Homo sapiens: one gene and its partner. The protein of the gene in region 2 interacts with the protein of the main gene of each other region in a biochemical or structural test. Each region holds a gene or a part of one and is shown on either strand. Other genes may lie near its edges. The genes, in order: ACR and ZP2.

Region 1 (16,316 bases), on a different chromosome or scaffold from region 2:
AAGAAAATCAACTCTGGATCACAGAAAGCTCAGAAGAGAAGCAGTGAAGTCTCTGGGGTAGAAAAAAGCTGCTGCTGCTGTAGCTCCACCCCAACTTGTCCAAAACCCCTTTGTGACCGCAGCACAACTTGCCCCATACTTCCATGTGCTGGCCCACCTGGCTCTGTGTCTGGCTCAGGGTCATTGAGGGTGAATCCCAAGCTGCCGTTGTTACGGCTTCTGCACGGGGCCTTGCATTTTGTATGCTTAGTATTTAGACAATGTCAAGTGTCTGGCACCAGAGTACAAAGGGAGATTAAGAAACTGGCTTTAGGAGAGAGAGCCTAAAAGTCAATAAAATGAATTACCAACTCCAACTTCAGCAGCACCAGCTCTTAAGCCAAGGCAGATAGAATGTTTTAAGTGTGATCAACTGTTACTATCCTACAGAGCCATGGGCCATTCGACTCAATACGCAAGCCCTCCTATGTGGCCAAAGCATTTCAGGGGTCATAAGAGGAAAACGGCAGGCACCGAAGTGCCCCTGCAGATAAGCGTAAGATTATGCACCAGCAGTCACCACCAGCTGGCCCATGAATGACAGCCCACGTTCGTGGGCATTTCTGGTGTGTCAAGACCTGCTTTAATACTCCGCATCTGTCCTTATTTCATGGTCACACAGCCCTCTGGCACATCTTCCCCAGAGCACGGAGCTTATGCGGGGTAGAGCAGGGTATTTGCTTGAACCCAGGTAGACCAATAAATTTTGAAGATGAAGATTCACAGCTGCTCCATCAGTCCAGGTTCCAGCTCCAGCAGGAAAATGACTGGTCCTTTGAGCTTTCTCAGCCAGGGTTCCTCCCACCTGCCATGGCACCTTCTCTCTGCCACCTGTCTTGGTAACCGGGGCATAGGACCACCTTGCGCTTGACTCACACAGGCAGCTAGGTGGACACACGTATGAGTGAAAGCTTGTTGCAATGACTGCTCAGCCAAATGCCAAGGTTTTCTCTCTTTCTGAGACCTGCCATCTTCAGTCTCACAAGGGGTTAAACCAGCAGTCAAGTTTTGCATTTTTACTCCCTGATCAGAGTGGGCGGTTGGCCTGAACCTATCAGGATTTCCTTCTTTTTTTTTTTTTTTTTTTTTTGAGATGGAGTCTCACTCTATCACCCAGGCTGGAGTGCAGTGGCGTGATCTCGCCTTACTGCAACCTCTGCCTCCCGGGTTCAAGTGATTCTCCTGCCTCGGCCTCCCGAGTAGCTGGGATTACAGGCACCGCCACCTCACCTGGCTAATTTTTCTGTGTTTTTAGTAGAGATGGAGTTTCACCATATTGGTCAGGCTGGAGGATTTCTTCCCCAGGATTTTGCAAATAGATGTGAACAGTTCCAGGTGACAGCTGCCCCCAGCATGGGGCAGTGTGGGGCAGGTACTCTATGCAGACCAGGGTCATGCCTTGCCTGGGTTCCTCACCATTCTTGGTGTCTGCTTCTGGCCTTTCCTATTGGTTCTGTGTGACATCTTTGCATCCTTATCACTTAAATGGCTCTAACTGGTTTCTGTTCCTTGCAATGGAAGGTCTTAAAATAAATAACCCCAAATCCTAAGGAAGCCACTCAAAGCTCACTCGGGGGCATCCAAAAAGTATTCCCCATTGCAATTCCTAGAAAGCTCTAGCAAAGAATACATTTTTTAATTTGCTCAAATCCAGGAACTAATAAGATTTAACTACAGGCAAGTAATGAACAGGCTTGTTGGTGTCAACTGGACACTAACAAGCCACAAGCAAAATTGTGTTTGGTAGTAGACACTTGTTTTGGTGGCCTAGTGGCCTCCTTAGCCTTTGTGTTCTGGGGAGTTCAACCTTCATGCAGAATCTTCTCTGTGGGTGTCAACACCACCAGCCTCCTGATAGAAGACTTGGACCCACACCCCCTCTTTCCCCGTCAGCTCACTCACAGCTGCTGCTTTGGGGGTCCACCCCCTTTGACTTGCACATGCAGAGATGGCTCTTTTATTTTCACCATTTGTCGTTTCTCCCTAAGTGTGAAATAAAGACCATCCCCGGTCTACGGCCCCAGGTCACCTTATTCCAGCATTAAAAATCAAGATTTTAAAAAACACGATTGGCACTAATGTACAAGCAATTCCGCCTTATTGTAGGGTGAAGGAGAGAGGGTAGATTTTATAGGGGAAATTTGGGTTGGGAGGGGGGATAGGAAGAAGTCCAGAAAGCATCTCTTGATGTATATGCATGTATACATACAGATATGTGTGTGTGTATATCTATATATATATGTTTATTTATTTATTTCATCTTTCCTTTTTCTCAGGAGTGAAGGGCTCACTGGGTCTGTTGAGAACCAGGTCAGATCAGGAGGTCGAGGTCAGTTCTGGGAGCTCTGTGGTCTCCATGTCATAATGGTTCTTTCCGTCGGAATAGGTCTTCCCCTTCAAGACCTCTATGAGCTGCTGTAGGCGCTTGGCAAAAGAAAGTCCTTGGGGAAGTTTTGTGGTAGATGAGGGTGTAGGTGGGGGTGGGGGTGGGGGTGGGGGTAAAGGTGAGGCTGGAGGTGGGGGTGGGGGCGGGGGTGAAGGTGGGGGTCGGGGCTGGGCTGCCGGTGGTCGGGGTGGAAGTGGTCGAGGGGGCGGTTGGAAATACCAAGGAAGGTGAGCAGAGATAGGGTGGGAGAAGGGGGGTCGAATCGGGGGCGGTCGAGTGGTGGGAGGTGGAGGGGTGGCCGATTGAATCATACGCAAAGCGTTAGAACCAATCTTGGAGGCGATCCAGTTCAGATAGGGCCAGGTGGCCGTGTAGATTCCGGGGCGCTTGGCACGGGCACAGCCTACCCCCCAGCTTGTGATTCCCACGACCACATAGGCGCTTTCCTTGCTGTCTTTGCACATGAGAGGCCCGCCGCTGTCTCCCTGTCCAGAAGGACACAGAGGTCACTATCTGCCTGAGCCACTCTTCCCCTGCCCAGAGGGGTCGGAAGGCTCTGGGAGGACAATTTCCACAGTGACATGGTCTCCTGCTGCTGTAAACACAAGTGGTTGTAGTAAAGTTTGAGGGGGTGTCAGGGGCTTCATTTGGGATGTGAGGAGGGTGTGAATTGTCAGGGCTTTCCTTGCAGTGAGATGAGCAAACCCACGTGTCCACAGGGGCACATGGCAGGGGCAGCCGGTGGCTGTCACCGCTCATCCCCACTGTGAGAGTAGGTGCTAGAAAAGGGACCGGGGAAGCAGTCACTAGAGAAGGGCCCTGGGCAGAGCAGTGGAGATAGTGGAGCTTGGGGATCCAAAAGGAGGATGTTCTCAGGGGCCGGGAGAGTCCTGGAGGGACCCAGGGGCCCAGAAGCCAGAAGGAAGGTTACCTGGCAGGTGTCGATCTTGCCTACAGGATACCCCGCGCACACATTGGTTGGCTGAACGCGCCCATTGTACCACTGGGTCGAGTTACACAAGTCCAGGTCGATGAGATCCACACGTGCCTCCATCAGTATAGATGATGGCCTGGGGGCTATAGTCAGACCACTCGGTGGTCAGTGATCACGGGAGACACGGACAAAAGCCCTGCCTCCTTGCCCCACCGAACCCCATCCTCTGTGATGCTCCAGTTAAACCTCAGACCCATCCAGTCGATGCCCCGACCCCTCCTTATACACCAGAAAGAGCAGACTAGAGGTGGTGGGAGGAGGTGGGGAAATGTTATCCAAATCAAGGCCAGAGGAGAGAGGAAGAGAGGAAGGAAGGGTGGAGGCCCGTGGACAGGTGGATGGGGGGTGGGTGTGCGTATTAACGATGGATTATGGAGGTTAGTTGCAGTATTACCAATAACACCTAGTGTGCACCAAGCACTCCCTGAGTCACATGGTCCCGTTATTCCCATTTTGGATCAGAAGGCTGGAGCACCGCCCACCCAGGTCACAGTAGAGAGGTGGTGGGGCTGCAGCCTGGCCTCAGGACTGCTCCTCTCCAGACTCCAGTCTGAGACACACTGTCCACTCCCACAGTCTGGCTGTAAGCCACTCCCCCTGCTTCTTGTCCCTCTTCAGAACTCCTCGGCTCAGCTGCGGACGGGATCTGCTGCAGCTGGGTCAATAAGTCCCTCCCCATATGCTGCATATCTGTTCCGAGGAGACCGCAGGGGAAGCTCGGGGCAGCGCCTCCACACACGGGCAGACCTGGCAGGGGCAGGGGCGGTTGAAACAACCCCGATGCGGACTTCCTTGAAAGCCCTGGACTTGGCTGGGCGCGGTGGCTCACGCCTGTCATCCCAGCACTTTGGGAGGCCGAGGCGGGCGGATCACGAGGTCAGGAGTTCGAGACCATCCTGGCTAACACGGTGAAACCCCGTCTCTACTAAAAATACAAAAAATTAGCCAGGCATGGTGGCGGGCGCCTGTAGTCCCAGCTACTCGGGAGGCTGAGGCAGGAGAATGGCGTGAACCCGGGAGGCGGAGCTTGCAGTGAGCCGAGATGGCGCCACTGCACTCCAGCCCGGGCCACAGAGCGAGACTCCGTCTCAAACAAAAAAAGAAAGAAAGCGCTGGACTCTCTACCGTGACCTTTGGGTTAGAAAGACCCGATGCTACGGCGCATGCGCCAGCGTTGCTCCTTTTCAAGGGGTCCCACAGACAGAAGGGTCCCCAACAGCAGCAGCCACTCTGGCCCCCACCGCAGCAGCACCTACAACCCTGGGGGTGGATCTGGACGTCACCTGCAGAGCAGATGGGAGCAGACTGAGGTAGGGGCAGACCCAGAACATAGCTGCACAGGCCAGGACGGGAGACAGGGGACACACGAGTGACGTGCATAGGGCTCGGCACACAGCAGGCGTCTGGTAAGCGGCTGCTGAACGAGTGCTCGCTGGCTTTCCGTTTTTTAATCCCCTTAGCCCCCACCTTTTCTTACCATCCAAGCAGCAGTGAGAGTTTTGTACATGCACTGCCCTTGGGGTAGGGGTGACATTGAAACAACAATGACAACAATCCTGGCTTATTAGCCATTAAGACGATTTTTTTTTTTTTTTTTTTTGAGACGGAGTCTTGCTCTGTCGCCCAGGCTGGAGTGCGGTGGCGCCATCTCGGCTCACTGCAAGCTCCGCCTCCTGGGTTCACGCCATTCTCCTGCCTCAGCCTCCCGAGTAGCTGGGACTACAGGCGCCCGCCACCATGCCCGGCTAATTTTCTGTATTTTTAGTAGAAATGAGGTTTCACCGTGTTAGCCAGGATGGTCTCGATCTCACGACCTTGTGATCCACCCTCCTTGGCCTCCCAAAGTGCTGGGATTACAGGAGTGAGCCACCGCGCCCGGCCAAGATGACTTTTTAAGTCTAGGGCAGAGCCCATAGTCTTGAAAGCCATGGGTTTTATTGTGAAGAGCCAGGTGTCCTCAAACAGAAAAGGGTTTTCTAAATCCCAACACCTTGGCGGGTTTTTTTTGAGATGAAGTTTCGCTCTTGTTACCCAGGCTGGAGTGCAGTGGCGTGATCTTGGCTCACTGCAACCTTCACCTCCCGGGTTCAAGTGATTCTCCTGCCTCAGCCTCCCGAGTAGCTGGGACAACAGGCATCCACCACCACACCCTGCTAATGTTTTATATTTTTAGTAGAGATTGGGTTTCACCATGTTGGCCAGGCTGGTCTCAAACTCCTGACCTCAGGTGATCCACCTGCCTCGGCCTCCCAAAGTGCTGGGTAAATTACAGGAATGAGCAACTGCACCCAGCCGACACCTGGGCTTTAAATAACAAATGCTTAAAAGTCTGCAGGGACTCAAAACCCAATGGGAAAGAAGCAATACCCAAGCAATACCCTTCCAGCCCCAAAGCAGATGAGTTGAAGGAGGTGGTAAGACATGGAAGGTTTGAAGGGATCACAGGAGTTGGAGCCTGGGGGTTTCTTTAAGACTTGGGCTTATGGGTACAGGATGTGTTTGCAAAAATGAAAAACAAAAAAACCCCAAACAGAAACAGAGTGATCCTATTAGGTTTATGGGAATTCCAGAACAAAAAAGGTTTTGCATGGCATCCAAGATATAGCTAGGACACTACAATCTGTCTGAGTAATAGAATAGGACAGCAACGGTTGGCAGTGGGGACCCTAAGATCAGCCTCCCAGGAACATAGGGACCCCCAAGAGCTGTGGACATCATCAGACAGGGGACAGAGCATGGCAGGCTAGGGGGCTGGACAGAGGCCAGGGCAGAGCCATGGGTATCGGCAGCTGGAATAGAGGCTGTCACTCCAGGCCAGAAGGGGATGGCCACGTGTCAAGTGAGGCCAGTGAGAACAAGGACAGCTGGGATGAGACTCCCTTCCCTGAGGGACAGGAGAGGTGACAAACCTGTCAGAAACTTAGACCACGCCCTCAGAGAAGGAAATAAGAGTTAAAGGAAGAATCCTCAAATTATTGACTTTTTGTTGTTGTTACCCAAAAAAGGCTGCGTTTTAGACTCATATGACTGAATTGCCTTGAATTAAGAAGCCTCATTATCCATTATCAAGAAAAAAAGAGATTGAGATGCACCACTTATGGAAAGCTGGAAGTATAGGTCACATGCAGAGATCAAGTCCTACTGGGTCTTGTCCTGCTGGCAAAACCTTGCTGCTCACTGCTGCCATTTAATGGGGTCACCTGTTGCTTCTGGGATAAATGGTATCTCTAGTGTGCCTAAGTATGTAGGGAGAGGTGTCTGGGCGTCTCTGACCACGGAGTCAGTAATGACAATTTGTTCTAGGTCACACCTGGGGCCCTCCGTGAGCCTGGTCTGGTACGGAAGAAATTCCCCCTACTCTTCTAGAACTCATCTGGTGTCGAGTGTATCAGGTAGTGTTGGATGGGCAAGAGATCTTCTGGGAGCCAGGGGAGAGAGAGACAGCTTGGTTATGGACAGAGCTCTAGAGCGACAGCTACACCCGTCTTGAATGGAGAGGTACCTGCCGGACACTCCAGGAAGCCTGAAATACAGGGATGCCTATGACCCACAGAAAGCCACACCAACCACCGGTCCCCTTCCCAGTCTACAGAGCAAATGTCAAGTAACTCAGATGGAGAGGGTAGATTTGGTGCTATGACTGCACCGGAGGTGGCTGCTGATGGTGACAAAGACAGCCTGGAAGCAGGAAGGCTGGGCCCTGGAATCACAGGTGTTAGGAAATGGTCAGCTTGGAGACCATCTGATCCAGCCCCTCCATTTACAGATGAGGAAACCAAGGCCCAGAGAGTGGAAGGCACTGTCATACGGCCACATAACCTTATCTGGAGCTCTTCTCCAAAGGCTGTTTCAGGGTTGCTGCTTGTTTCCAGGATCCAGCAGCTTGGGCCCCAGGTGCCAAATACAGACACAGCCTCAACCCCATTCTAAGCAACGCTGCGCTCTGCCTGCACCTGCTGTCAGCCCCCCCGTAGACAGCCAGACGAGTCACCCATCACGTGACCTGGCACAGGGGACTGTGGAAGGCCACAGTGATGGCTCTACGTGTAGCGCCGTGAGGAGGATGAAAGCAGCCTGGCTGGGTGTCAACAAGTGACCGCTGCACCTCAAAGACCACCAGGAGAATGGCCAGCAGCGTCCCCCCTTGGAGGCGCTCCCATACTCACCTTTCTCTTCTATATATCCCCAGCCGGCCACCCAGCAGCTCTGGGAGCCTCTGGGGAGGCCTGCCTTAAAGTGGGGCAGGCAGCCCGGCCCAATGAAGCGCCCACACGAAATGGGAGGGGTGATCTCCACGAGGGCAATGTCATTTCCCTCTGTCGCAGAGTTGTATTTTTCATGAATGATGATTTTCTCCACATATCTCTCTTGCAGAGGCGCCTTTACTGGTTTATTGTTCCCATATGTAATTTCCTTTGCTCCGAAAACCAGTCTCCAGTCATGCACATTACTGTGGGCACAAAGGTAAGCCAGGTCACAACCGGCTGGACAAAAGCCTGGTGACAGCGACCCTCAGGGCCTTCCCCTAGCAAAGGTCTGGACCAGCCCCCGGAGTCTTGCAGCCACTTGGCCCAGAGCCCCAGGGAGACGCTGCACAGCATCCCCGGGGAACGCCCCTCTCTGAGAAGAGCCGTTCTGAAGACCTCCCTCAGTGCATCCCTACACGTACTTTTTGCCGACGAAGCAGTGAGCAGCAGTGAGCACCCATCGTGAATTCAGCAAGCTGCCTCCACATGTGTGGTACCTGTGGCTGTTGTACGTGAAGATCTGGAGGCTGACCATCCAGGGCCAGGCCCCATGCTGTGCAGCCTTCCCGCCGACGATGCGGACACCACCCTGTGGGTTTTGCCTGAACCGTAACCCACAGGGGCCACTGGGGAGAGACCAGAGCACAGTTCAAACCTGGCATGAGCACAGCCTGTCCTTGTAACTCCACAACTGAGGGGAGGCAGGGACATGGGGTTGGGAAAAGTGGGGAAGAGCTTCCGGGTTCTGGGAAAGCAGGGGCAGCCTGCGCTATGTAGGAAGCCGCAGGCTCTAGGAAATGGTTCTGGGGCCACGACTTCTCAGGTCTTGTGGGTGCAGTCACAGATGGAGAAAGAGGAGGCCATAGGAAGCCAGGACAGGCTGCATGGGCCCTGAGGGATGGCCCGTCCCTGGGCAGAACAGGAGGGTAGAGGTGGGGATGCGGGGCCTGGGGACAGAGGGGTGTAATGGCCTGAGGTCCTTATAACCAATCTTGGGTGGGAGACTCAGGGAAGTCAGGTGATGAAGGGGGTCGTTGACAGTGATGGGAGGAGGGATAGCAGCCAGGGGCAGATACTGTGGCCCACAGGTGTAGGGGGCACACTGAGAGCAGTGGAGGTCTAGAGGTGGAGGCTCTGGGAACTGTGTCACGGGTGGGAGGCCACATATAGCTTGGGAGGTGTTGGTATTTCGGGGTACCTTGGAGTGAGAGAGCCTACTGGGGGGTAGGGGTGCAAGCGGTGTGAAGCGATGATATCCTGGGGCTGTTGGGGGCAACCACGGGTTGGGACAGCTGTCTGTGGGGGGATAAGGGCTCCCAAAATCAGGACTTCATGTCTTCAAGACAGTGGGGTCAGTCCCTGGGGGAGTGGGAGAGGCACAAGGAGCCTGAGGTGCTGAGGGGTCCATCTCTGGAGGAAACCACGAAAGCTGAGGGTCTGGGGGCTCCAGGCTGCTGATTCTGGGAGCAGGGGGGGTCCAGGTTAGGGATGCAGCCTCCTTTTCCCTAGCCCTGGACAGAGGGAGTCGGGGTGGTACCTGCTCCTCAGAAGATCCTTCCCCCACCAAGGTGCCCCGACACTTACTCACACGTGGCGTTATCTTTAGCAACCACGGACACTGCCAAGACCAGCAGAATGGCAGTTGGTAGCATCTCAACCATACTCCTGGCACTGCCTGGCCTGCAAGCCTAGTGACCTCACAAAGCTCCGTGGCTGCCTGGCCAATCAGCAGGGGTGACCCCCACCCCACCCCCAGCAGTCAGGCCAGGTAAGAGCCCCTCGCCTTAACTGGTTTGTGCTGAAGAGACTTCTTGACTTCCTGCATAGGCTCCCCCACCACCAGGATGATGGGGGACTCCTGTGCAGCCCCACTCCCTCTGTCCCAAGGCCAGGATCTCCATTCCCAGTAACTCTTGCGAGGTCCCCACATCACCCAAGGCTCTGGCTTTGTGCAGGTTCAGAGTCTGCCTCTCATGCGTGCTGTGACCACTGCAGACTCACAGACTGAGGAGCGGCTCAGCCCTTCAGTGATGAGACGGTGCAACATGTTTGTGGATCAGAGGAGTCAGGGTCAGCAGATTAATTGATCCTTAATTGTTGTTGGGGAAGTTTTCTTTTCCTCTTCCAAGTGAATGCTATCAACACACTTTTCCAAGAGTCATTTTGAATTTTCCTAATTTACAACTGCAAAGCCCACCTTCCTGTCCGTTGCTGAATATCACAAGGTCTCCTATTATCCTGAATGTCTCCAGATCGGCTTTCTGTGACTGAGGTGGAGCAAGGTGTTTTCTCCTATACTTGAATGTCAAGAGTTTTCATACAGCTACCTGAATATCATGAAGCATCATTTTTCCCATCTGATCATCAGGAACTAGCATCTCACCTACCAGAGTGTGACAAATGCTTATTGCAAACACCTGAATGTTAAAACATTTCCCATCGCCTGCAAGTGTCAGGAGGTCACACTCTTACCTGCATGAGGGCAGCCTTACCTCTTCTACCTGAATGTAAGATCTCAACCAGCCCGAGGGTCAATAGGTTGCACATCATCTAAGTGGGTGTCAGAAGGTCCCATGCCTCCAACCTGAGTGTCAGGACATCTCATCTCCTATTCCTGAGTGTTGAGTTTTCAGATTATCAGATGATCTTGATTTATCTATTTTCTCTAACTGAATGTCGTACTTATGACATCCTCAAATGAATGTTCAATAGGTCTCGTATATCTTACCCAGTATCAGGGAGTGATCACCTCCTTCTTTGAAAGAAATAACAACTCTGTTTTTCCACTTCAGTGCCAGAGGCCCTCATCGCCTCCACCTACAGGTTAAGAATTCTCACCTCCACCACCCAAGTGTCACCCTGTCGCACTTTCTCTACCTGAAAATCAAGAGGTCTTACATCTTCCAGCTGAATGTCAAGAGGTTGTATTTTACCTATATGAATGTTCTGAAGTCTCCACCGGTATACCAGAGTGTTGGGAGATCTCATTGCCCCCATCTGGGTGCCAGGGCATGTCCTACCCTCTACTTGAATATAGTCTCATATCCCTGTCTAAATGGCATGGAGCTTTCATCTCCTCTGCTAGAGTATCATGAGATCTCCTCTATTCTGGGTGTCCAAAGTTCTCATCTCAACCCCCTGAGGTCTGGAGGTATTCTCACCTCTTCCTGGTTGTCTGGAGGTCTCATCTCCCTTACCTGAGAGTCATGAAACCTCCTATCTCCTATATGCCCTATCTAAGTCATGACACTTTATCTCCTCCGAGTGTCAGGGGATTTTTCTACCTTTATGTCAGGTAGCCCCACTTCCTCTAGCTGAAGGGCATACAAGTTCTATTTCGTGACTTGAATGTGAATAGGTTTCAGCTGCACTACTGAGTGTTAGCGGACCTCACTTATTTTAACTGAGCATCAAGTTGTGTCTCATAAATAACCAGAAAAAGACTTTGGAAATATGGTTCAAGAAATGGCAAGAAGAATTGAAGAAGTGGGCCCAAGTGCAGAGGCTCATGCCTGTAATCCCAGCACTTTGAGAGGGTGAGGCAGGCAGATCACTTGAGCTCAGGAGCCCCAGACCAGCCTGGGCAACACGGCAAAACCCCGTCTGTACAAAAAATACAAAAATTAGCCAGGTGCAGTGGCACCTGCATCCCAGCTACTCAGAAAGCTGAGGCAGGAGAATCATTTGAACCCAGAAGGCAGAAGTTGCAGTGAGCCGAGATCGCACCATTGCACTCAAGCTTGGGCAATGGGAGTGAAACCCTGTCTCAAAAAAAAAAAAGAAGAAGATTAAAGTTTTGACTGTTAAAGAAAATATTATTCGGGTGTTTTTAATGGATAGCACCTATTTCTTTACAAATATTTAGGAGGTATCAATAAAAAAGTCTGAAGACCCAATGTCAGTGTCTGGATTCTAGAAGACCATTACAGTTTGACTCCGCAAAGCTTACCCACTTCTGATTCTAGAAGGGGCTGCCAGTCATCGTGCCTGCCCGTGGCTATAGTGATGGTTGCGGGAAAAGTACCTGGCCCGGCCCATTTAATTTTGTCATTAAACTAATGGAAGCAACAAACATCTCAACTCAGAGTGACTTTGTCTGACCTTCTTCATGCTGTTCTAAGAGCGAAGGAGAAATGGGTGACAGGTCTGGGGCCAGAGGGTGGGGTCCCATCCGAGGGCATGGCTCAGGCTGAGGCAGAGTGCTCAGCACAGGGGGCAGGATGGGGGCTCCCCATCTCCCCTCAAACTCCTCCCTGCTCTCTGCTTCCACCCTGACCCCCAGGCACCCCTCCAGCTCATCCCAGCCATTCTCGCTGCTCCTGCTCACCCCAACCACCCGCTGCCTTCGCCAGCCGTGCCCACTTCTGTCCCCATGCCTTATTTACCTGGGCAATCCAACTCCCACCCCAGTTTTTCTCACCCTGATCTCCAATCCCTTCCAGCCCCCAATCCCCTACTTTTCCATTCCTGTCCCCACCACCCTCCGTGAGGAGCAGAAACCTTATCCAACCATCCTCAATGTCCAGCCAGCCAGGAAGGCAAGAAGATCCCAGAGGGAGTAAGAATGGTTGACGCAGTGAAACCTTGAGGGCCGAAAAGGGGTAGGTTTCAGGTCTTCACCCAGGGGAAGCAGGTGCCTCGGGGGTGGTTTAAGCAAGCAGGTGAGGGTCTGGGTGGCGCCATGGAGAAGGACGAAGGCCCTTTGAGGCTATGGTTGATGACAGCTTGAAAACCAGCCTCAGGCTGGGCAAGGTGGCCCACACCTGTCATCGAAGCACTTTGAAAGGCTAAGGAGGGTGGAGTTCTAGACCAGCCTGGGCAGCAAAATGAGGCCCCCATCTCATAAAAAATAAAAAAAAAATTAGTCAGGTGTGATGGCCCACGCTTGCAGTCCCAGCTACTTGGGAGGCTGAGGCAGGAGGATCGCTCAATTCCAGGAGGTTGAGGCTACAGTGAGCCACGATCATGCCCCTGCACTCCAGCCTGGGTGACAGGGTGAGACCTTGTCTCAAAACAAAACAAAAGCAGCCTCCATGTCCTGGCCCTGCCCCAAAGTTGTCCACAGGTCTTGGGAGTGGCTGGGGGGTGCCAGCCCACAGGAAGAGCAGAGGCCACACAATTTCAAATTTTCAACATTTCCTAATCCTCATCTTATTTTCAGATTAGAAACTGAGGCCATCATAAGGAAAGGGCTGCACGGGAAGTCAAGGAGGGGGGCCCTGCAAGGGTCTGAGTGTGGGAGCAGGGGGCCCCTGACTCGCTCTGGGCCTGAGTGTGTGGAATCGGGAGGGTGGGTCTCCCTGGGCTGCACATGGAGCCCTAGGCCTCCATGGGGACTCAGAGTCTGGGGCTAGTGGCACTTCTCCACGGTGCCACCGGCCCCACCCCTGGCTAAGGTTAACCACAGAGCCAAGGTATGCGATTGTCATTCTGTCATATTCACGCGCCTCCTCAACCCAGTGTGTCCAGGCTCTGAAACCACTGCCCCTCCTGTAAGCAACCCTCCCCACCGGGGACGTCACATCTCTGCAGCCCCTGGCCTCAGTGCTGGGTCCTGTGCCCTCTACTTTCTCACGGCTCCCTCTTGATTGCCTTTGCCCACTTGCCTTACTGTTTGCCCTTCAAGACATAGCTCACCACCTCCTTCCACTCAGCGAGGGGTCTCTGTCCCTCCTGTTGGCTGGCCACCCCCACCAGGTGCCACCCAGGACGTGTCTTTTTTGCCACATTATCGGCTGCTCACATGACTGCCTGTGCGCTCCTGAAGGACAATGTCTTGTCTCTGGTGCTCAGGGTGGGAGCAAAAAGGAAACCTCACATCCAACTGGGCAGACAACCCAAGGTGAGAAGCACCAACTTGCTCTAATTTGAGATAGCACCAGGGCCGTGCAGACGCAGAGCCTAACATCTAACTGGGACTCCAGGGAGGGCGGGTCAGAGAAAACGTCCTGGAAGACAGGATCCGGAGATCAGCCTCCAAGCTATGTATGCTTGATGCAGGCAAACGATGGGTGATCCAGGCAGAAGGAAGAGGGCATGTGTGAGACAGAGCCCTGAAGCGTCATAGCGGCTCAGGGATTGCAGGAGGTGGGGGGAGACTGGCGAGCAGCATGTGTGCATGGGGAGGGAGCAGGGGATGCTGGCAGGGCCACGGCAGCACTGGCTGGGCCGGACTGGCTCACGGGGTCCATCCATCAGCTGCATTTACAGACAGGCTGGTGTTTGTCAGCAGAGGGCAGAAATGGAAACAGAAAACCAGTGAATCAGCAGGGAAGGAGTGAGGGCTAAATCTGGTCTGCAGCCGTGGGGTAGGACAGTTGCGAGAGATGCGAGCGGGTTCCAAGACAGGAGCAGCAGAATTTAAAAGCAACCGGACGCTGGCGGGAGCAAGTCTTAAACCCTAGGCTTAAAACCTGGCAGGGGTCATGGAGGACAAGTGGCCTCCAGCTTAGGAGGTGCTACTCAGTGGGTTGGTGAACAGAGAAAAGCTTTCGGTGCAGAAGGCATGGGCTGAGTTCCAGCAGACTCGGAGAAGATGCTGGAAGATGCCAGGTGCCTAGGCATGGAGGTCAAAGATAGGGATCTAGGAGTCACCCGTGCATGTGGTCCAGGCTGAGGAGGTTTGTGTGGCCGGTATGAGGGACAGACACAAATATCCCCTCAAGCAGGCAACTGAGCCATGGCTTCATTTCTTATAAATTTATTACATAATAATATTATAATAATTATTATCAATAATAATAATATAAGAAACATAGATCTCTGTGGGGCGTATCACAACGTCAGGGTCAGGAGGCCTCAGGACTGGAGCAGGGGGTGAAACCCCCCGGATGGAACTCCATACAAAAGGAGGTGAAGCGGAACTGACCCTGTAAAGTTAAAAACCCAAATTGAACGGAACCAAAACCCACAGGTGAGTGTGAGACCGAGTGTGTATGTGGCAGTCTGTTACAGTGACTGCTGCTGTGTGACCTGGACTGTTGGCGGAAGGATGAGTGGGTGTGACTCTGTGCCCAGGGAGTGGGGCCGGTGGGCCAGGGCGGGGCGGGCAGGCACAGACCGGCGTGCCAGGCCCCTGGGTTGTGAAAACTTCTGTTTTCTTTTTTTTTTTATTTTATTAAAAAAAGCTAGAAATATAAACAGAAACTTGTGAGTGACGTGGATGGAGCTTAGTCCAGACTCCAAACCCTAGGTTTAAAAACGTCCCAGGGCCCCCCACCCCACAGGTCATCGCTGAGTGTGAGGAGTCACAGTGTGGGGGGCTGGGCACCCTCGGGGGTCTTTGACTCTCCCCAGGGCCTGTGGTGAACTGACTCTAGGGGTCCCCCTATGATGCCCTCAGAAGCCCAAGGTGGGGGCGCTGCCTCCAAGGGGCCCTTGGGGCCTCCCCAAGCAGCAGGGATTCACCAGGGAACCCCGCTCAGGCTGGGTGAGGCTCTGGAAGGACAGGCTGGGCAAACAGCTGGACCCAGGGTGCAGGATGGCCTCTGACTTTCTTTGGAAGAGGAGACAGGGTGCTCTCACAGGTACACCCCACGCATGCACACGGTGCACGCCTCCACGGCCCCGCGCTAGTCCAGAGCGGCCCCTGGTGGCCACTCAGTAATCAGGCACACACACGGCTCCCACGTGCTCAGACGCACCCAGTTTCACCCACACACATAAAGGGCAGGACAGGAGACTTTGGGGTCCAAGGCAGGGAGGCTTCTCTGCTGTAGTTGCCCAAGAGCATGGGGACCAAGCTAGCCCCCTCCTTGGGGAGAGACCCTGTGAGGAAGATGGCTGCGGTGGAGCGGCAGGGCCCTGCCCTCATCCCCCCCGGCCGATGGTCTCCCAGGCCGGCTGGTCCCGCGGGTGCACAGCAGGACCCGCGGCCTGCCGCCCCTCCCACCACGAGCAGCACCTGAAGGGTCGGTGGGGCACACTAGAGCTCAGCGAGGCGAGGGGCCGAGCTGGGGCCCCAGGGCGGGCCACTAGGGCCCTGGCCAACCCCAGACCAGCTGGAGCGTCCCCTGCCCCGTTGTGGGGTGGCAGTGGCAGTGAGGGGCCGGAGATGGAAGACTGGGCAGCTGCAGTGGGACCAGTGGAAGTAGAAGGGAGGGGAGAGGAAACTATTACGGACAGAGATATTTGTTCCTTTTCTCGTTCCAAATATAGAGTGGATTAAAATATGCAAAACAGGGGGGCTCCTTGGCCCCCATCGAGAATCCCAATGTCTCCCCCCTCCCCCCGAGTCACCAAGGCGGGTCCTGACCTCGCATGCTGGACTAGGTTCCCCCTCTGGGAGAATGGCCACCAGGAGCTGCGAAGGAGGTGGTCACGCTAGGGCACCCCACCCCCGGCACCTCCCGCCCCAGCCTCCCTGGTCCACGCCCTTCCTGACTGTGCGCTGGGTGGGCTGGGCGGCCGGTGAGGGCACTAAGCAATGTACAGGGCGAGTCTCCGAGCAACAGCAAACAGGACGATTCATGCAACATTCCTGGCCCGGGCGCCGTCGTAAGGGGCAGGCCGAGCCCGCGGCCCGGGGTGGGGGTGGGGGGCCCTGCCGGCAGGGCACGGCCGGGGCGGGAGTGGGGGTGGGGCGTCAGCTGCCGTCCAGCTGCCTGAGCGCGCGCTCGATGTTCATGCGGTGGCCCACGCGCGTGACGCC
Region 2 (16,214 bases):
TTGTGTTTTTAGTAGAGACAGGGTTTCACTAAACAGACAGGGTTGGCCGGGCTGGTCTTGAACTCCTGACCTCAAGCGATCTGCCCGCTTCAGCCTTCCAAAGTGCTGGGATTACAGGTGTGAATACCCAGCGAAGTGTTTGGCACTTAATAGGCATTAAAATGGGTTGTATTATAAATTAATGTGAAGACATGGTTGAGATCATGCTTCAATTTAGGAATACTGGCCTGTGCTTTGGTGGTACAAAGCCAGACTTCCACACCTACCACATAGTGAGTCACTCCAGTGGCATTGAATGGCACATGGAAGGTCATCCTGTGGTTGTCAATCAAGAGGCTGAAGCCTTCCTTCATGGCCTCTGGCAGGGTCAGAGTTTTGGCTCTTGCACCATCACCAACCTCAATGCTCCATCCCATCTGAACTTTGGTCCCCTGAAGTCAAAAAGCTTTGTTTAGAGGGCTGGTGCTCCCTTAACCAAGTCTCTGGTAGTCTAACAATTTATCAGGTTAAAGGTAATATCACCTTTAACATAGAATTAAAGGTTATTAAGGTCTGATTTTTAAAATTTGCTTCATACCTTACTGTCGTCAGCCAAGCCAGAGAAGACCCGTGGCAAGGAAAACTGGAAGAAAAGAATTGTGATGTAAGACTTTGATTTGGAGGTAGATGTTTCCGAATTCATGCCAGAAATTGCTGTGTGGTTGTCATACCAAAAGGCCTGCTGTGGGATGCAGTGGAAGAAGCACATGAACCCTGACTGTGCCCTTAGATGTCATTATACTTCTTTGAACTTCTGATCCCAAGAGGCAGCTGGAAGATCTAAGCTCCTTTCCAGTTGTAAGTTGGGACACATTTCTCCCCCCAAGATAGAGTTTCGCTCATCGCCCAGGCTGGAGTGCAATGGTGCAATCTCGGCTCCCTGCAACCTCCGTCTCCTGGGTTCAAGCGATTCTCCTGCCCCAGCCTCCCAAGTAGCTGGGATTACAGGAATGTACTACCATACCCGGCTAGTTTTTTGTATTTAGTAGAGATGGGTTTTCACCATGTTGGTCAGGCTGGTCTCAAACTCCTGACCTCAGGTGATCCACCTACCTCAGCCTCCCAAATTGCTGGGATTACAGGCATGAGCCACCATGCCTGACCAGGACAATGTTCTTAAACGTTTGCCCTTTCACCAATGTCCATAGAAATCAGGTACTATGTAAAAGCCATGCAGTTCTATCATTGTTATTGAGTTGCTTTTATGTCAGTGTTATTTTTAGTTGTCCATTGTTGACATTAGCCATGTTAGACTCTAAACCCATGAAGATGTGACTGGGTCGTTTTGTTCACTTATTGTATCTTAGCATCTAGGGTAGGGCCTGGAACATGGCATGTATTCCATTTGTCAGATGATTAGTGTGAGTGCAACTACCAATAAAACCCTATTGCCATGCATGATGTGCCAAGTACCATGTATATACCCTCAGTAAATTCTTAGAGCCACCCTGAGGTAAGCATTATTGTCCCATCACTTTGGACTTGGAAACAAAGCCTCAGGGTAAAGTTAAACCTCATCACACAGAAAATTAGCAAGTACAGGATTAAATCATGGTCTGATTTCTAAGCCCCGCCCTGGTTAGATCATCATCATATTCCCCCTGCAGTAGCCATATACCCCGAGCAGTCAGCCCGTTTCACTCACAGACATGAAATCCTTCTGGCAGATTGTAGATGCTGAAAGCCCCTGGGTCTCTTCTACTTGCATAGCTGGACAGAAGAACTGATACATGACAGCTCCGTGTCTTAAGGCAGCACTGTTGTTCATGACTCTGATGGTCATCTGGTGTCCACCATGCTGTGTACAGATAGCACAGTGGGAACAGAGTAAGTACTGTACCCCCATGGGATTCTAGAATACCATCTGACCCATCTGAGTGGGAAAACCCTTAAAGTTACTAATACCACAAGTGCTGGAAGGTACCTCATTCCCGTACCAGGAGACTAGCTAGCCCATTGTAATCTGTTAGTGAAGACTCATGCTGATAGGCCAGTTTTAGCATCAGGAAATGGAGTTCAGTTTCTATTTCTCTTATGTGTACCCTATGTCTCAGTACCATGGTCCTGGCTGAATGGGGTTGGTATGGGGCTTCTACCCAGGTTATCTGAATACTTGTTAAGCACCTAAGTAGCTGCCATTGTGCTGGGTAGAGCTACCCTTGCTATTACCCCTGACCTTAGGAAACTCAGTCTAAAAGCAGGGGTCAGCCAACCTTTTTCCATTATGCATTAGCAACTGTTTTAGACTCATGTGAGCCACATGAAATCCATAGCATATTTCCTTAAAAGAACTTTAAAAAGATAAAAGCCAGCTGGGCATGGTGGCTCATTGCCTGTAACTCCAGCACTTTGGGAGGCTGAGGCAGACTGACTGCTTGAGCTCAGGAGTTCAAGACCAGCCTGTGCAACATGGTGAGAGACTCCATCTCTATATATATATTAAACACACACACACACACACACACACACACACACACACACACACACACCACAAAAGTTAGCTGGGTGTGGTGGTATATGCCTGTGGTCTCAGCTACTGGGCAGGCTGAGGTGGTACTGAGACATAGGGTAGGGGATTGCTTGAGTCCGGGAGGTAGAGGTTGCAGTGAGCCGAGATTATGCCACTGCATGCCAGCCTGGACAACAGCAAGACCCTGTCTCAAGAAGATTAAGAAGATAAAACCCATTCTTAGTTTGAAAACCAAACCAAAACAAAAACAAACAAAAACACAAAAAAAACCCATGAACTAGGCACAGTGGTTCATGCCTATAATCCCAGTGCTTTGGAAGGCTGAGGTGGGAGGATCCCTTGAGGCCAGAAGTTTGAGGCCAGCCTGGACAACATGGTGAAATCCCCATTTTGACAAGACAAAGATTAGACAGGCATAGTGTTGCATGCCTGTAGCCCCAACTAGTTGGGAGGCTGAGACGGGAGAATCCCTTGAGCCCAGCAGTTCTAGGCTGCAGTGAGCCATGATTGCAGCCACTACTTTCCAGCCTGGGCTACAGAGCAAGCCTGCCTCAGAAAGAGACCATGGACTGCGTTTGGCCATCCACAGGTTATGGCTTGCAGACCCTTAGTCTAAGGGAATGCGACTCCAAGACCTCTAATGTTGAGAAGGTCTGTTTTAGAAGGAAATTATCAGGTTTTTCATGAAGGACCTATGATTACTTCATTGATTGATCACAGAGGGCTTTAGGGGACCAGATGACTTACAGTTCAAGCCTGTTTACAGAGTAGGGTCTAAGACTGTATCTGTACAAAGCTTAGACTGCTGACCACCTGCATCGTAATCAGATGGTATAGACTGTTAGATATGCAGATTCCCAGAACTCACCCCAGGCCTATGTCCAACTAGTCAAACCCAAACTTTCCAAATTACAACTTGCTAGCTTCTGCTTAGACAGGTTGCTTTTATTGCTCCTAATATTCCTGATTGGGCAATACTGTTGCTTGGCAATAGAAAAACCCTTACTGCTTAGCTGCTGTTTGCCTTTTAACACCTGTTTCTATAGGTCAGATTTCTATTTGCTAGCACCAAAATAGCCTTCCATCTCATGTTGGGGTTCACAGATCAAAATAGCTCGTGTTTCATCACTTGTTGTATCCAGGTTCTGCACCAGGTCTTAATCTGTAGAACATCATTAGTCTTCATTACCCCCATGGAGCAGGCACCATTACTCTCATCTTCTAATGGGCAAACAGGCTTGAAAGGGCTCACTTGGTGGAAATTACACCTGATTAGTGGTAGAGCCAGGGCTCAAGGGCTCAAGTACTTGAATGCCAGGGTTTCTCATCCTCAACACTGACATCTCAGTCCTGGTAATTCTGTGTTATGGGGAGGAGACTTGGGTAATGTTGGTTGTCTGCCAGCATCTTTGGCTTGTATCCATTAGATGCCAGTAGTAGCTCTTCTACCTTCAGTTGTGATAACCAAAGATGTTTCTAGATGTTGTCAAATGTCCCCTGGACAGATTCCCCCCACCCTCCTCCAGACAGTTTTGCTCTTGTTGCCCAGGCTGGAGGGCAATGGAGCAATCTCAGCTCACTGCAAACCTCTGTCCCCTGGGTTTAAGCGATTCTCCTGCCTCAGCCTCACAAGTAGCTGGGATTACAGGTGTGTGCTACCACACCCAGCTAGTTTTTTGTATTTTTAGTAGGGATGGGGTTTCACCATGTTGGCCAGGCTGGTCTCAAACTTCTGACCTCAGGTGATCCACCCGTCTCAGCCTCCTAAAGTGCAGAGATTATAGGCGTGAGCCATCACACCTGGCCTAGACAGATTATAATAGAAAAGAAGAGCCACACACGAGACACCACCCCCTTGGTTGAGAGCCACTGCTTTACTCCAAAGAGAAAGTTCTTAGCCAAGTTTACTGCCAGTAACTCTTAGGTTACTACGTACTTCCCCAAGAACTGCTCAAAGCAATGACTTACCACTCTCCTGGTACAGTTATCATAGGTAGCCCTCAGGGTGAGCTTTTCTGGGTCCAGGATGTAAGTGCAGTTCGGCATGTCGAGACCAAGAGGATCTGCCAAGGCCAGAGCAGGTTAGACAGGATGGCTGAGTACATTTCAGTGACAGTCCAAAGCTATAGAGTCAAGACCACCAGTCCATTTCTAAGGTACTTCAGTCCCTTCACTTCCGCCCCAACTCAGTGATAGAACTTGAGCTTTGAGATGGTATGACTTGCAGCCAGAGGCTTCCCAGAGATGCTGGCATAAGACACACTTTCGAAGACAGACAGGTCTTCCATGCTGGGTGGCTTCATGCAAATCAGGTATCCCCATGGCATCATGGGAGTTGGATGCCGTTGCTGCAGGAGTTTGGGTACTCTGCTCCCCAAACAGGATTGACCTAAGCCAAAGGCTGTCTGCTAATCAGGACTATGAGGAGATAACACACGTTACCTACCCACCACAGATGCATGCCATTTCTTGGTGCCAGGACTGCTTGGGAACTCCACTGTTATTTCCCTTTCATCGCAAGTGACAGTGCCTAAGGAGCAAAGGAAGCATTTGGGGGCTTTGAGTCATGAGTGATGCAACTCCTACAAAAGTGTATAGACTCCTCTCAGATGGGAGGGATTCCAGATGAGGGAGGCAAGAATCGTCCCCTACCCTGGGAGAGCTCACAAACAAGTGACCAAGACAACAATACAATATGCCAAGAACTGTAAGGAAAATATCAGGTACCCAGGGCTTTTGAAGTGTTCCAGTAAGAAGCCCAGGTTAGGGTTGACAAGCAGGTCTGTAGGAGCCAGGTCAACACCTTGACAGTGGAGCAGATGGAGGCAGGCCCGAAAAACTGACAAAAGCTTTGTCAACAGGTTTTGCAAATTGATGTTAAACAAAGTCCTGGGTAAGTCCCAGGACTTTTATTTATTTATTTATTTATTTTGAGACGGAGTCTCTCTGTCACCCAGGCTGGAGTGCAGTGGCACGATCTCAACCCACCTCAACCTCCGCCTCCCAGGTTCAAGCGATTCTCCTGCCTCAGCCTCCCAAGTAGCTGGGATTACATGTGCCCACCACCACACCCAGCTAGTTTTTGTATTTTTGGTAGAGATGGGGTTTCACCACATTGGCCAGGCTGGTCTCAAACTCCTGAGCTCAGGTGATCTGCCCGCCTTGGCTTCCCAAAGTTCTGGGATTACAGGCGTGAGCCCCGGCGCCTGGCTGCATTTTTTTTTTTTTTTTTAAAGATCAAGTTTTGCCCATCATCTGCTACTCTGCAGCCTCTGGCTCAGGTGAACGTCAAGTGAGCAGCTCCAGTTTTGCTTGTTATGTCGATGTTTTCCTTAAGCATGAGTTTGTGTTTGAAGATTGCTGCTCCTAAAGATGAGGGCTTAGTGTGGTGGTTTGCTGTTCTGTGGATACCATAAAGCTTGAGGCAGTGAGGGATTGGAAGGCAGTGCAAGTGTTTGAGTTTTCATTTAGCAGGTATAGTGAGTCTACAGGTTAGCAGAAGAAAGATCCAGTAACCTGACCAAGGTAATAAAGGGGGTGAATGGAGGTTGTCTGAGCCAGGCCTGTGTTTCTTGGCCAGCTAGGCCTTCCAGCTGCAACCTGTTTTCTCTGCTAAGAAGACTTCTGTCACCCAAGAGACATACCTGGAAAGGCAGGATTTACCAACTGAGAAACATCTATGGAGTTCCCTGAAGTCACAAGGGCGAAGAAGAGAGAAATCGACCTGTAGGTGCTGGAAAGAGACAGGGAGATAGTCAAGGAAGAATGGACTTTAACAAACAAAGCTACCATACCCCCTCCCTCCACTTCCAGAATTACTCACCTCCAGCCTGCATTGAACCAGCCTGAGGGACTCCAAGAGCCTCCTCTCTGCCTGCACGCCATAGCAGAAGACACTACCAGATCAACCAGGTAGAGGGTAGGCTGCTCTGTGTTTTTATAGCAGGAAGCCAGCCGCATCCACACCCTCTCCCCATTGGGGGCACCTGAATCTTGTCCCATTCTCCCAGCTGAAACGGAAGGATTGGGGAAGGAAGTGGCCTCTGATTCCTGACAGCTTGCGCCGGGTATTCTGCCAGCTGCCCTGTGGGCCAGGCATGAAATCAGAGTTTGCTGAAATCAGCTCCAGGTGAGTGAATTGGTGTTTTCCCTATAACTATGGGGGAAATTAGGATCTTTTGGGCAAATTATTTACAACTGCAATGTAGAGCCAAAGAGAATCATGGGCTTTATTGAGAAAAAAACAAGTCTTGTTCACACCACTACATTTTTTTTTTTTTTTTGAGATTCAGTTTCACTCTGTCACCCAGGCTGGAGTGCACTGGTGCAATCTCGGCTCACTGCAACCTCTGCCTCCTGGGTTCAAGCAATTCTCCTGCCTCAGCCTCCTGAGTAGCTGGGATTACAGGTGCACGCCACCACACCTGGCTAATTTTTGTATTTTGAGTAAAGATTGGGTTTCACCGTGTTGGTCAGGGTGGTCTCGAACTCCTGACCTAGGTGATCCACGTGCCTCGGCCTCCCAAAGTGCTGGGATTACAGGCGTGAGCCATTGCACCTACCCTAAAACCTTTTAAGTAACATCTAGTCTTCTGGCTACTGCAGAAGTTACCCTGATAATGCACAGGAAGTGTCTTTAAAAAAATGAATGAAGCCTTGTTGACCCCCAAGTGTAAAAGCTTAAGCTTACCGCAAAGATACAATTTCAGAAGGATACAGAGAAAAGGCAAAAGTCACTCATAATAGTGCCACTGCTAATATTTAGGTGAGTAACTTTAGACATGTTTCTACAAACACCACACACAATTTTTTTAAAACACTGGGAGGAAAGTTTAAATACTGTTTTGTAATCTGCTACTGTCACTTTATAACTATTAAACATAAAGCTCTCTGTTACCATTTTAGGGTGGCATAATATTCAATTTGAGATAAATCTGTGTTTATATAATTTCCTTAATTATGAGCATAAGGTGGCTTGTAATTTTTCATCATTATAAGCAGTAACATGATGAGCATTCTGATACATATCCTTGGGTAACCCTCAAGATAAATTCCTCAAAGTAAAACTTCTGGGTAAAAGGGAGTAGTGATCTAATAAGAATGTTATATTGTTGTAAAGCACTTGGAAGTTTCCCAGTGGGGAAACTGAGGCAAGGCAACTTGCCCCAACAATGTCAGGGACCAGGTGGAGAACTCAGATTTCCTGAGGCCTGATGGTTGTGTTTTTTCAACATCTCTCACACTCTTTGAGATAACTAGATGTCTGCAGCCCATGTTCCAAAATAGGTGGATATAAGGCTTAGACTCCATTCAAGTGGTGGGTGACACTTGCAATTATTAGGCTGGTGCAAAAGTGATTGCAGTTTTTGCCGCTACTTTTATGTATGTATGTATGTATTTGAGATGGAGTCTTGCTCTGTTGCCCAGGTGGGAGTGCAGTGGCGCAATCTTGGCTCACTGCAACCTCTGCCTCCTGGATTCAAGCGATTCTCCTGCCTCAGCCTCCCGGGTAGCTGGGATTACAGGCGCCCACCACCAAGCCCAGCTAATTTTTGTATTTTTGGTAGAGACAGGGTTTCACCATGTTGGCCAGGCTGGTCTCGAACTCCTGGCCTCAAGTGATCCAACCGTGTCAGCCTCCCAAAGTGCTGGGATTACAGGCGTGAGCCACTGTGCCCGGCCCTTTGCCACTAATTTTAATGGCAAAAACTGCAATTATTTTTGCATCATCCTAAACTGTATTGATTCATGTGTTGCCTTTGAGGTGTAACCTGAGGCATCTGAAATAACATTGGAGATTAACTGTTTCCCTGACTTCCTTGATCAAAAGGATCACATGGAGCTCTCATTAATATCACAGATTCCAGGGTCCCACCCAAAAGCTGCTGAATTAGACTCTCCAGAAGATGTGCCTGGGAAATATTTACTTAACGAGCACCACAGGTGATTCTTATAATCAGGAAAACCTGGAAAATACTTGGAGGGAGCGAGGCGAGAAAATCTGTGGTGGCCAGTGGTTAACCTCCTTACGGGAATTGAGTAGATTACATCCCAGCGGAATTGGGAAGAAGGAGCAAAATACAGATAAGTTTTTGGGGATAGAGATGGTAAAAGGATTTCATTTTATAGCCAAAGCATGATAGCAATAGTTTCTCCTTCTATGCATATTTTTCTGAAAAGTGGCACCTTTTCTACAAATATAATTTATTGCCACAATGGTTAAGACTATGATAAGACATTAGAGGAAAAAGGAGCATAGACGTGAGACTCAGAGCCCTATTGAGAAGGTGGTCAGAGAAGTGATGGGTTAATGTGCTTATTCAGCCTCCCTCAGACCCCACCTCCCTTCCCACCGCGCTACTCACTCCCCTCGAGATGGTGTCTTTCTCCAGAGCGGGAAGTTTTTGCCTTGGAAAGGGCAGCTTTGGTCAGAGCCCCCAAATTTGGGGTTTCTAAAAGGTTAAGGGGCAGCACAGAGACCCCAAGCAGGAGATGTGGTGAGAAAGCCCGCTGTGGGCTGGTGAAGCTGGTATGTGCACCAGAGATTAATTTTGTTTGTCTCACCTAACCCAGACCTGTGGTGTGCTGGGGACAGCCACCGAACAAATGGCTCTGGGCCCAGGAGCATCCATGTCTAGGATTCTGCTCCGGAAAAGCAGGAAGCTACCATCTGTTCAGCAACTGACTTTGAACACAGGAAGAAATAGCTGCTCCGTAAAACAGTGTCTCCTATCAGGAGGTAGGAAAAACTAAAGTTATTACAAAAATGATTCTTAACATTCTGTTCTCACTTATAAGTGGGAGCTGAACAATGAGAACACATGGACACAGGGAGGGGAACATCACACACTGGGTCCTGGTGACAGGGGTTGGGGGGTGGGGGCAGGGAGAGCATCAAGATAAATAGCTAATGCATGCGGGGCTCAATACCTAGGTGATGGGTTGATAGGTGCAGCAAACCACCATGGCACACGTTTACCTATGTAACAAAGCTGCATGTCCTGTACATGTATCCTGGAAATTAAAATTAAATTTAAAAAAATATTGCGCTAAATAGGCCCGGTGCAGTGGCTCACGCCTGTAATCCCAGCACTTTGGGAGGCTGAGGCGGGTGGATCACCAGAGGTCAGGAGTTTGAGACCAGCCTAGCCAACATGGTGAAACCCTGTCTCTACCAAAAATATTAGCTGGGCATGGCGGCACACACCTGTAAATCCTGCTACTCGGGAGGCTGAGGCAGGAGAATCGCTTGAACCCAGGAGGCAGAGGTTGCAGTGAGCCAAGATTGTGCCACTGCACTCCAGCCTGGGCAACAAGAGTGAAACTCTGTCTCAAAAAAAAAAAAAAAAAAAAGGCAGTAAACAAACAGCAGACCTCGTTCAAATATATGTGTTCCACACTCTTTTCAATGAACCTCTTAAAGTTTGCTGATTTATTATTACAAGGTGTTCCTTCTCCTCTTCTCTGCCCTGGGTTCTATGTATCATGAAACCATTTCTCTCTTGCTAATCACAAGGCATTTCTTGACGGGGTTCTCATACATAAAAGAAAGACTATAGTTTTGTTGTTGCCTCATTTGGGCAGATGTCTTCCTTTCTGAAGTGTGGTTCTTATAAATGACAGTTTATAATTCTTAAATTCTGAATCTGCTGCCCTTGTTTTCCACAACAATTATAAAAGTATTTATAAAAGACAACCTAAATATCACCATCTAGAGATGGTTGGATAAACTATGGAATACTCTTCAGCTACTGCAAATGATTCTATGAGTTCGTTCAGATCTGTGAGTACTGACATGAAAGATGTCTGCAATAAAACTGGAATTTCAGGGCTATATATCTACTATGCTTTCATGTTTTGCTTTAATAGGAAAATGAAAAACCTGTCGACCTAAAGGAAGGAGAAGAGAATATAGTTTTAAAGAGTTTACTTGAGGCAAAGTGTGGACAGCTGCCCAGGAAACACTTCCAAGTTGCCTTGGTGAGTTCTCCACTTTTGTCACAAGTGGGTGTTTTTTTTGTTTTGTTTTTTGTTTTTTTTAGACAGAGTCTTGCTCTGTCGCCCAGACTGGAGTGCAGTCGCACGATCTCAGCTCACTGCAAGCTCCGCCTCCCAGGTTCACGCTATTCTCCTGCCTCAGCCTCCCGAGTAGCTGGGACTACAGGCGCCCACCACCACGCCCAGCTAATTTTTTGTATTTTTAGTAGAGATGGGGTTTCACCGTGTTAGCCAGGATGGTCTTGATCTCCTGAACTCATGATCCACCTGCCTCAGCCTCCCAAAGTGCTGGGATTACAGGCGCCCACCACCATTCCTGGCTAATTTTTTGTATTTTTAGTAGAGACGGGGTTTCACCATGTTAGCCAGAATGGTCTCCTAACCTCGTGATCCGCCCACCTTGGCCTCCCAAAGTGCTGGGATTAGTGGCTGATACAGTGTTTCTTGACTCATTGATTTACAGAAATAACACTGATTAGCTGGGTACAGTGGCTCACACCTGTAGTCACAGTGACTCAGGAGGCTGAGGTGGGAGGATAGCTTGAGCCCAGGACTTTTAAGGCAGTCTGGGCAGCATAGCAAGATCCCATCTCAAAAAAAAAAAAAAAACACTGATTAGTGATTGGCTATACATTGTTGAACTATAGGGTATGATTAATGGCGTCCAGCATATGGTATGAGTTATGATGTCCAGTGTATGGCATAGTTAGGTTAATTTTATGGCTACTTGGTGTCAGTCTAGAGCCCACATATCAAGTAGCTCCAAGAGATAATTACTGAGCCCGAGGGAGTGAGGTGTGACTGCTGTCACGTTTCAATGCCTCTCTGGGCCTGATAATTTAAAGGGACTTGCATTCTTCAGATAAAAAGTTTCTTTTCTTTCTCAAACTTATGTGTATATTTATACTTTATGTGTCTGCATGTGGGTCTATACATATGTATTTGGATTACAAGTCAAGAAAGTTGTCCCAGAGAATCGACAGCATCATCCAGGAAAGGAGAGGGTTGCCAGGGTCCGGGGAGTCCACGTGGCTGTGCTGGGCATTTGCGACCATTGTCTATTCTGACTTGTTCGTGCTTTTGCTGTATGGGTTTTAAATACATTGAATATCATCACCGGGAATAGGATTAAGGAGATGGGAGGGTTGGAGCACAGAAAACAATTCCCCAAATGTGCCTGGGCATGCCAAGTGCTTTGGAAAATTAAAAGGCTTCAGAAATAAGCCTCAGAATCAAGGTCTCTCTATCCTTGCCTTGTTCCCTTTCCACCCCCAAAGTACAGGAAGGAACTCTCTCTGGGGAAAAAAAAAAGAAAGCTCCTTCTTTTTTTTTTTTTTTTTTTTGGCAGGGCTTTGGTCTTGTTGCGCAGGCTGGAGTGCAATGGCATGATCTGGGCTCACTGCAACCTCCACCTCCCAGGTTCAAGTGATTCTCCTGCCTCAGCCTCTCAAGTAGCTGGGATTACAGGTGCACGCCAGCAACCATGGCTAATTATTTTTTTTTTCTTGTATTTTTAGTAGAGACAGGGTTTCACCATGACGGTCAGGCTGGTCTCAAACTCCTGACCTCAAATGATCCACCTGCCTTGGCCTCCCAAAGTGCTGAGATTACAGGCATGAGCCACTGGGCCCAGCCAAGGCAGCTTCTTAACAGAAGAAACACTATTGCCTTCTATCCCCTCCCTGAAATCTCATTATCTATAGCAGGAAAGGAGACTAAGGAATGTAACCACACATGGACAGACTTTTCCACAAGATAATGTCAGCCTCTGAAGCTCAGTCAAATTCCAAAGATAATTATGTACAAGTTAATTTCTCTCTCCCTGGTCTGTTCATTCTCCCTGATAATCATTATTGCCCCTCAAGAGAATTGTCTACAGTCCCCATCTCCTCCCTCCCCTATGAAAAACTGTATATACAGCCAGGCACGGTGGCTCACACCTGTAATCCCAGCACTTTGGGAAGCCGAGGCAGGTGGATCACCTGAGGTCAGGAGTTTGAGACCAGCCTGGCCAACATGGCGAAACCCTGTCTCTACTAAAAATATAAAAAATTAGCCAGGCATGGTGGTGTGTGCCTGTAATCCCAGCTACGCAGGAGTCTGAGGCAGGAGAATCGCTTGAACCCGGCGGGCAGAGGCTGTAGTGAGCCGAGATTGCACCACTACACTCCAGCCTGGGCAACAGAGCAAGACTCCATCTCAAAAAAAAAAAAAAAAGAAAACCCACCGTATATATGCATCTGTGCCCCACTGAGGGTTTAGGGGCAATTACTCTGTGATTCCCACCTTCCCCTGCACATTAATAATTTTGTATGAATTTTTCTCTTATTCATCTGCCTTTGGTCAGTTTATTTTCAGTGAACTTTCAGAGTGCAAAGGTGGGAGTTTTCTTCCTTCAGCCCTTAAAGAATAAGTAACTCCTGCCTTTCTGACTTTGAGGGAGAAGAAAAGGAAAAATCATTTGGGATAAACAGGCTGCACCTGCACACAGATAAGCAACTTTGTCTAATTAGCGAGCTCCTAGGAAAAAGTTTCCTCCCCTTTTCAGACATATCCATGGTGGGAACTTACACAGGGAGGAGGGGGGCTTACCTAAAACAAACCCGCAGTTATCAAAACAAGAGACGCAGGCTTTGTGCTTGCCTAGATACATGCCCACAGTTGCGTAAGATACCGGGAGTTGCACAGACAGCTTTACTGATGAGAAGTTACTCAAACTGCTAGAGATGAGAGAGGAGTTTCTTAAAAAAGCTTTTGAATTCAGCTGTAACCTGGCAATCCACTTGGACTCCCCTCTCTGCTGCAGAGAATTTTTTTCTTTCACTTATTACTATTCTTTTTTGAGACGGAGTTTCGCTCTTGTTGCCCAGGCTGGAGTGCAATGGTGTGATCTCGGGTCACTGCAAACTCTGCCTCCTGGATTCAAGAGATTCTCCTGCCTCAGCCTCCCAAGTAACTGGGATTACAGGCATGCCCCACCACACTCGGCTAATTTTGTATTTTTAGTAGAGATGGGGTTTCATCATATTGGCCAGACTGGTCTCAAATTCCTGACCTCAGGTGATCCACCCACCTCGGCCTCTCAAACTGGTGGGATTAGAGGTGTGAGCCACCACACCTGGCCTCTTTCCCTCATTAAACTTTCACTCCAACCCACCTTTGTGTCCATGTTCCTTAATTTTCTAGGAGGTAGGACAAAGAACCCAGGGTACTAGTTCAGACAATGAGAAAGTCTACATTAAGGTGCATTGGTGAGGTTCCAACAACTTTATTCCCTCTGTTTTGGTTGAATTGTTTTAGTGATAAAATAACCAATTAAATAATTATAGACTGGGCATGGTGGCTCACGCCTATAATCCCAGCACTTTGGGAGGCTGAGGCTAGAAGATAACTTGAGGCCAGGAATTCAAAACCACCTTCGACAGCATGGCAGGACCCTGTCTCTTAAAAATTTATTTAGTTAGTTAGTTTTAGTTTTTTGAGACAGAGTCTCACTCTGTCACCCATGCTGGAGTCCAGTGGTACCATCTGTGCTCCCTGCAACCTCTGCCTCCCAGGTTCAAGCTATTCTTATGACTCAGCCTCCCCAGCAGCTGGGACTACAGGCGTGTGCCACCACACCTGGCTACTTTTTGTATTTTTAGTAGAGATGGGGTTTCATCATGTTGGCCAGGCTGGTCCTGAACTCTTGACCTCAGGTGATCCATCCGCCTTGGCCTCCCAAAGTGCTGGGATTACAAGTGTGAGCCACCGTGCCTGGACAAAAAAAAATTTTTTTTAATAATAATTTTGACTGATTTCTGAGTGAGCTACCTAAGTTACAGAGTCTAAGGCTCAAGGATGAAAACTCAGTAGTATAAAGGTAAAAAGGCGAAATGAATGGATCCGGAACTTGAGGCTTTGAAACAAAGTCCAACTCCCTATGGTAAAATGAAGATATTAAGAGGTTTAATATCTAAAGAGGTTTAGTGACTTGCTCCAGGTCATTTACCAAGTTAGTAGCAGATAGAGCTCCAGTGAGAAACCAGGTCTCCTGATGCCTCTCCCTGCCCTTTCTAATTCATTTCAATTTTCTCTCTCTCGCTGTGTGTGTGTGTCTGTGCATGCGGGGGTGTTTTAAAACTCTGTGCTTCTCTTGCAGTTCACTTGTCTTTTAAAAGTACAAGATGACATTAATTAGAATTTTAGCAGTATAAGATAAATAATATAAAAACTTCTCCCAGTTATGCTAATGCAGCTCAAAATAGCTTTCAAATATCAAATATGAATTTAACTTGGAAAAATAAGATAGACTATGTCAATGAGAATGTTCTCGAACATCATATGGTAGTTCCTTTACCAATCTAATATACAATGTTAATGTTGTTTTCCCCTTGGGTCCTTTAGACAGATCCAAGTTGAATGAGCCTTCTGACAGTAATAAATTCAGAAAGAACTAGGATGAAAGCTTTATCGATCTATAAATATAAAGGTAGGGCGGCATCAATATATGGAAGACAGAAGGCCCAGAAGTCTTTTTTTTTTTTGAGATGGAGTCTTGCTCTGTCGCCCAGGCTGGAGTGCAATGGCGTGATCTCGGCTCATGGCAACCTCCGTCTTCCAGGTTCAAGAGATTCTCCGGTCTCAGCCTCCTGAGTATCTGGGATTATAGGCATGTGCCACCACGCCCAGCTAATTTTTGTACTTTTAGTAGAGATGGGGTTTCACCATGTTGGCCAGGCTGGTCTCGAACTCCTGACCTCAAGTGATCTGCCCCCTCCAGCCTCCCAAAGTGCTGGGATTATAGGCATGAGCCACCACACCTTGCCTTTTTGTCTTTTTTAACTGTTGTTGCTTTAACGTCTGTTTTGACTGATACAAGAATAGCTATTCCTGCTCACTTTTGATGTCCGTTTGCATGGAATGTCCTTTTTCACCCCTTTACTTTAAGTTTATGTGAGTCCTTACATGTTAGATGAGTCTCTTGAAGACAGCAGATACTTGGTTGCTGAATTCTTATTCATTCTGCCATTCTATATCTTTTAAGTAGAGCATTTAGTCCATTTACATTCAGTGTTAGTATTGAGAAGTGAAGTACTATTCTATTCGTTGTGTTAGTTTTTGCCTGAATACCTTGTGTTTTTTTTTTCATTGTGTTTTTGTTTTATAAGTCCTGTGAGACAATGCCTTAAGGAGGTTCTATTTTGGTATATTTTGAAGATTTGTTTCAAGATTTTGAGCTACTTTTAGCAGTTCTTGTAGTGCTGGCTTGGTAGTGGCAAATTCTCTCAGCATTTGTTTGAAAAAAAACTGTGTTTTTCCTTCATTTATGAAGCATAGTTTCACTGGATACCAAATTCTTGGCTGATAATTATTTTGTTTAAGAAGGCTAAAGACAGGACCCCAATCCCTTCTAGCCTGTAGGGTTTCTGCTGAGAAATCTGCTGTTAATCTGATAGTTTTTCCTTTATAGGTTACCTGATGCTTTTGCCTCACAGCTCTTAAGATTCTTTCCTTCATCTTGAATTTGATCATTATGTGCCTACATGATAATCTTTTTACGGTGAATTTCCTGGGTGTTCTTTGAGCTTCTTGTATTTGGATGTCTAGATCTTTAACAAGGCCAAGGAAGTTTTCCTCAATTATTCCCTCAAATATCTTTTTCAAACTTTTAGATTTCTCTTCTTCCTCAGGAATGCCAATTATTCTTAGGTTTGGTCATTTAACA

Evidence for each region.
Region 1: the proteins of ZP2 (region 2) and ACR form a complex in vitro, tested with the Homo sapiens proteins (one study listed by IntAct).

Annotation. Positions count from the first base shown.
Region 1 is NC_000022.11:50,731,247-50,747,562, reverse strand, and holds ACR (acrosin precursor), read right to left. Parts: upstream 9,360-16,316; 5' UTR 9,328-9,359; coding exon 9,251-9,327; intron 8,293-9,250; coding exon 8,089-8,292; intron 7,870-8,088; coding exon 7,586-7,869; intron 3,503-7,585; coding exon 3,357-3,502; intron 2,911-3,356; coding exon 2,356-2,910; 3' UTR 2,224-2,355; downstream 1-2,223. UniProt on the Homo sapiens protein: Acrosin is the major protease of mammalian spermatozoa. It is a serine protease of trypsin-like cleavage specificity, it is synthesized in a zymogen form, proacrosin and stored in the acrosome.
Region 2 is NC_000016.10:21,205,154-21,221,367, forward strand, and holds the start of ZP2 (zona pellucida sperm-binding protein 2 isoform 1 preproprotein), read right to left. Parts: upstream 6,422-16,214; 5' UTR 6,395-6,421; coding exon 6,333-6,394; intron 6,243-6,332; coding exon 6,154-6,242; intron 5,040-6,153; coding exon 4,956-5,039; intron 4,573-4,955; coding exon 4,478-4,572; intron 1,838-4,477; coding exon 1,685-1,837; intron 623-1,684; coding exon 578-622; intron 432-577; coding exon 267-431; intron 1-266. UniProt on the Homo sapiens protein: Component of the zona pellucida, an extracellular matrix surrounding oocytes which mediates sperm binding, induction of the acrosome reaction and prevents post-fertilization polyspermy.